2 separate regions of the Homo sapiens genome follow, and region 1 is linked to region 2. Evidence: fine-mapped expression QTL. A gene starts in region 2. The other region holds a variant in brackets. All regions are shown on one strand. Distances are from middle to middle.

Evidence for each region. PIP is the estimated chance that this variant, and not a neighbour inherited with it, causes the effect. A credible set is the group of variants that fine-mapping cannot tell apart.
Region 1: its variant is the best candidate, but not a certain one, in a credible set for the expression of GET3 in stomach (GTEx, PIP 0.62).

What each region holds. Positions count from the first base shown.
Region 1 is chr19:13,249,297-13,252,206 of GRCh38, reverse strand. The region is part of intron 30 of CACNA1A (calcium voltage-gated channel subunit alpha1 A); the gene reads left to right. Among named protein-coding and RNA genes, the nearest start is that of IER2, 100 kb to the right of the region's middle. The variant C/T (reference allele first, on the strand shown) is at 1,277.
Region 2 is chr19:12,735,858-12,738,767 of GRCh38, reverse strand. GET3 (guided entry of tail-anchored proteins factor 3, ATPase) reads right to left here and starts at 1,271. Exons shown (of 7, transcript NM_004317.4): 1 at 1,102-1,271; 2 at 110-257. The coding sequence starts at 1,262. RefSeq lists enhancers at 1,106-1,165, 1,286-1,345, 1,128-1,723, a silencer at 1,736-1,835 and a cis regulatory region at 1,060-1,917.

The sequences.
Region 1 (2,910 bases), 510 kb before region 2:
CCTGTAGTGCCAGTTACTCAGGAGGCTGAGGTGGGAAGATATTTTGAGCCCAGGAGGTGGAGGTTGCAGTGAGCTATGATCATGCCACTGCACCCCAGCCTGGGCAACAGCAAGACTCCATCTTTAAAAAACAAACACAGAGGTCAGGCACAGTGACTCACACCTGTAATCCCAGCACTTTGGGAGGCAGAGGCAGGCAAATCACTTGAGCCTAGGAGTTCGAGACCACCCTGGCCAACATGGCAAAACCCCATCTCTACTAAAACTACAAAAAATTAGCCTGGCGTGCTTGTGGGTGCCCATGATCCCAGCTACTCAGGAGGCTGAGGCAGGAGAATCGCTTGAACCCACAAAGTGGAGGTTACAGTGAGCTGAGATCACACCACTGCACTCCAGCCTGAGCAACAGAGCAAGTCTCAAAAAAATAATAATAATAAAAATAAATATGTCTTTATTTTTCACCAGCCACTAACTAAATTTTAACATTTCCTTCCATCTTAAAGGGAGATAACAAACCCTTAGTATTAGTATTATCAACCCTTAATATTATCAACATGACCTGTGTCACTTATAAACATCAGATATTTTCATACTGCATTATAAGAGCTGCAGATACCTTAACATTTAATTTGCATTCATCATTGCTTTAAAATGTTGCTTGTGATTAAACCTACAGCTAGAATTTGTTACTCAGTGTTTTTTTGTTGTTGTTCTGTTTTGTTTTGTTTGAGACAGTCTCGCTGTTGCCCAGGCTGGAGTGCAGTGGCGCAATCTCGGCTCACTGAAAGCTCCACCCCCTGGGTTCACGCCATTCTCCTGCCTCAGCCTCCCGAGTAGCTGGGACTACAGGTGCCTGCCACCACACCTGGCTAATTGTTTGTATTTTTAGTAGAGATGGGGTTTCACCATGTTGGCCAGGATGGTCTTGATTTCCTGACCTCATGATCCGCCCGCCTCGGCCTCCCAAAGTGCTGGGATTACAGGCGGGAGCCACCGCACCCGGCCTACTCAGTGTGTTAATGGAGAAGTATATTCATTGTTAGATCGCCATTTTTAAAACTTTTTTTTTTTTTTTGAGACACAGTCTTGCTCTGTTGCCCAAGCTGGAGTACCGTGGCACAATCTTGGCTCACTGAAACCTCCACCTCCTGGGTTCAAGCGATTCTCCCATCTCAGCCTTCTGAGTAGCTGGGACTACAGATGCACACCAGCATGCCAGGCTAATTTTTATATTTTTAGTAGAGACGGGGTTTCACCATGTTGGCCAGGCTGGTCT[C/T]GAACTCCTGGCATCAAGCAATCTGCCTGCTTCAGCCTCCCAAAATGCTGGGATTACAGGCATGAGACACTGTGCCTAGCCTTAAAAAATATTTTGATAGCTATTTTATTACAAAAGGTAACCTTGAAGCCCTTGCTATTTTGTTATGCATTTACAAGCCTTTATGCATAAAATAAAATAGCCAGCACTATTCTCACATGGCCAAGGTTCATAGCACACACACAAAAGTATAGTTGGCTGAGTGCGGTGGCTCACACCTGTAATCCCAACACTTTGGGAGACAGAGGTGGGTGGATCATGAGGTCAAGAGATCCAGACCACCCTTGCCAACATGGTGAAACCCCATCTCTACTAAAAAGTACAAAAATTAGCTGGGTGTGGTGGCGCATGCCTGTAGTCTCAGCTACTCGGGAGGCTGAGGCAGGAGAATCATTTGAACGTGGGAGGCGGAGGTTGCAGTGAGCCGAGATCTTGCCACTGCACTCCAGCCTGGGTGACAGAGTGAGACTCCATCTCAATAAATAAATAAATTAAATTAAATTAAATTAAAATTATTTTTTAAAAAATTGGGGGCTGAGTGTGATGGCTCACACCTGTAATCCCGGCAGTTTGGGAGCTTGAGGAGGGCAGATCCCTTGAGGTCAGGAGTTCAAGACCAGCCTGGACAACATGGTGAAACCCCGTCTCTACTAAAAATACAAAAATTAGCCAGGCATGGTGGCGTGTGCCTGTAATCCCAGCTACTCGTGAGGCTGAGGCCCAAGCATCGCTTGAACCTGTGAGGCGGAGGTTGCAGTGAGCCAAGATGGCACCAGTGCACTCCAGCCTGGGTGACAGAGTGAGACTTTGTCTCAAAAAAAAAAAAAAATTAAGGTGAAGAAGGCTTATACTAGTGGGCTGGGACTTGAAGTGAAGTGAATTCTTGAAGGTCCCCAGTGAGTGGCCAAGGTGGGACTTGAACCAGGACATCTGTTCTCTTGACCACCAGCTTAGTCCATCCCTTTGAAGAGAGTGACCTACAGTCTGGGTCTCAGCCAGGGTCTCAGGAAACCAGGTTCCCACCTTGGCTCACGGAGGTGGTTAGGGGCATCAGCTTTAGCACCAGAGTTCAGATCTTGCCTCGTCCTATATAAGCTTTGTCACCTCCCCATCATTAAAAGGAGCCATCCTCCCCCTCCACCTCAGCAGAGCCCTGGTAAACAGCAAATGGACTAACGTGCATCTAGAGGGTTGAGGATGAAGCCTGGCCTGGCATGGGCACTCAATAAATGCTAGGGGCCAGGCACGGTGGCTGACACCTGTAATCGCAGCACTTTGGGAGGCTGAGGCAGGTGGATCGCTTGAGCCCAGGAGTCTGAGACCAACCTGGACAACATAGTGAGATTCTGTCTCTACAAAAAGTACAAAATTAGCCTGGTGTGGTGGCGTGCACCTGCAGTCCCATCTACTTAGGAGGCTGAGGTGAGAGGATGGATTCAGCCCAGGATGTCAGGGCTGCAGTGAGTCGTGATTGAGCCGCTGCACCCCACCCTGGGTGACAGAGCAAGACCCTGTATCAAAATAAATAAATAAATGCTAGGAAAGGGATCCTACTAATGGACCTTTTTCCTCCAAAACAGTGGCTTTCATTTGGT
Region 2 (2,910 bases):
AGACACAGGATATAGAGTGGATAGGACACGGTGGCTGCTGGTGTGTGCGCACAAGAAAGGCTGGAAGAGGCTTTTCCCAGAAGTGGGGGCTAAGCCCTGTTCCACTCACCATAGCAAAGAGGTTGTCATAGCCTTTGACCTTGGTAGGCACCTTTGAGAACTTCTGGTCAAAAGCATCTGAGATGTTGTGTGCTGGGTCTGTGGAGATGATCAGAACACTCTCACGCCCCTTGGAGAGCTGGACTGCCAGGCTGCAGCTGAGTAATGGAAAAGTCAAAAGATAGGGGATGAGGGGATGGGCTCTGTTCCCTGGGTCTGCAAGGGGAGTGGTAGGTTCCCTGGAGCAGGTGACCCGAATCAGCAGGGGCCTTGAGAGGAGAGTATGGGTTATGGTGGGATTGAGCCTCAGTCCCTACAAAGGAACCCTCTCTGATTTATCTCCTGACCCCTCTATGTGGACTAGAGAGGTAAGGTTCAGCTGACTGAGTCTGTCTGGCCTAGTGCCTGCTTCTTTTTTGCTGGGCACAGTGGCATGGCCCAGCGGTCCAGCCAGCATAGCTTGACTCCGTGCCCCCTTCCTTAATAAGCTAAGGGGTCTCCTGCATTCCCTAGTAAGCACAGGATGGTTCAGTCTGCTTGTCCAGGATAATCTGTCCAACGGACACCTCCTGCCTGTAGCTGCCTGGGACAGTCTCATCACGTGCTCTCTCCCTCGCTTTCCACCCTCACTCTCGCCTTGGGCATAAAACACCAAGGTTCACCAAACTAGGATTGCTTGTTCTGGTGCCGCCCTCACCCACAACTCTGGATTCACTCAGGTACGGTCCAGCTGATGGGGATATCTAAGTGCTTCCCCGTCCCCCGGGCGCTGAGTTCACTGTGGTTCGGCACTTGAGCCCCAACACGGATGGTCCAACTCAGAGGGTGCTAGGGCTGCATTGAGGTCTTTCTCATTTGCTCCAGGTAACTTCCAGAGAGTGAAACCCAAAGACCCCCGCCAGCCCCCATGCCCCGGTCGTGGTGGAAAAGCCGGTCCTTGGCCTCCCCTTCGCCCAGTGGTATATCCTACACGCCTCCTGGCCCCCGCCGCAGCCTCCTTACCTGCAGGTGGTCTTGCCCACACCACCCTTGCCCCCGACGAAGATCCACTTCAGGCTGCGCTGCTCGATGATGTTGCTAAGTGTAGGCTCCAGCGGCTCCACATCAGGAGCATCTTCGAACTCCTCTGCCTCAACCCCCCACCCGGCCACCCCTGCCGCCATTTTGGAACTGGCTCACGTGATCCAGCGGAGCGCACCATACGAAGAACCTACAGGGGAAATTCTCTATCACATTCCTAGCGAAGCTAGGAGCATGAGTTAATTTCCTCATTACTTGCCTTTTAGGAGAAATATAAATTATATTTTCACTATTCTTTGCTTCCAGGGTTCACTTTGTCAACCTCTGGTCTATAATTTTCCAAGGGTTCCCCCTACCTAATGAACACATCGGTACGGTCTAGGCTACTCCCTTTCACTGATTGGGCCCTAGGTCTTGCAGCTCTCCTTTCATTGGCTATGTCTTTTCTTACTTACACCAATCACTCTTATGTTCCGGTAGCGCCAACCTCACCTTAGCAACCAGCCAAACACCCAGTCCATGCCCTTTCGGTGAAGTTAGATTCCCGGTCCTCCTTGGCCTGACTCCATAGGCTCAACTTTATGTCCATCATTTTCCCTCTATTCTTCACGGTAGGTCCCAACCTCACCTCAGGTCCGCCCCCTCTGTTATTCAATAGGCTGTGAGCCTCTTGGCTCTTGCCGCAAACCAATCATAGACGAATTGACTCGGTTGGCGATAGGTCCCCGGGCTGATAGTGGCTTAGAGTGGGCGAGTCCACAGAGTCTTGTCCTGTACGCCCTGATCTCCCATGCCTAGCAGACACCATTCCTGCAATTGCGCTCCGTTTCGTAGAAGGAATTCCTAAAAGTCTCCTTGTATTTCAAGAGAAGACTCCAGTATACCATATTTCATGTTTGAACCTCTGTCTTAGAGCAGGAACAGAAGCTGGGTTCCAGGCCCTTGATGGAGACCCCAGCCCATGACACTCTTAACTTTAGAGGGAGACTACAGACTAGAAATAACCCCGACTTCATCTGAATACTACAGCTCATAAAATAAGCTGATTCTCGGGCCGGGCGCGGTGGCTCACGCCTGTAATCCTACCACTTTGGGAGGTTGAGGCGGGTGGATCACCTGAGGTCAAGAGTTCGGGACCAGCCTGGCCAAGATGGTGAAAACCTGTCTCTACTAAAAATACAAAAATTAGCCGGGCGTGGTGGCACGCGCCTGTAATCCCAGCTACTTAGGAGGCTGAAGCAGGAGAATCGCTTGAACCCGGAGGGCAGAGGTTGCAGCGAGCCGAGATTGCGCCACTTCACTCCACTCCAGCCTGGGTGAAAGAGTGAAACTCCGTCTCTAAATAAATAAATAAAATAGGCTGGGCGCGTTGGCTCACGCCTGTAATCCCAGCACTTTGGGAGGCCGAGGCAGGCAGATCACGAGGTCAGGAATCGAGACCAGGTTGAGGCAGAAGAATCGCTTGAACTCGGGAGGCGGAGGTTGCAGTGAGCCGAGATCACGCCACTGCACTCCAGCCTGGGCGACAGAGAGAGACTCCGTCTCAAAAAATAAAATAAAACAAAATAAAATAAAGTAATAATAACAATAATAAAATAAAAAAGTAAGCTGATTCTCAGACGGGGACTTCAGCTCCACAGAGCCAGCTATGTCCCCAACAAATGTGAGCTTTATCCCAGAGATGGTTACCCAACCCAAAGATACCCCTATTTCTACTTGGGGGGCCCAGACTAGACATGCTCTCTATTCCCCAGTTAGGGATTCAAGTTCCCAGGTGTCAGCTGAGCACAC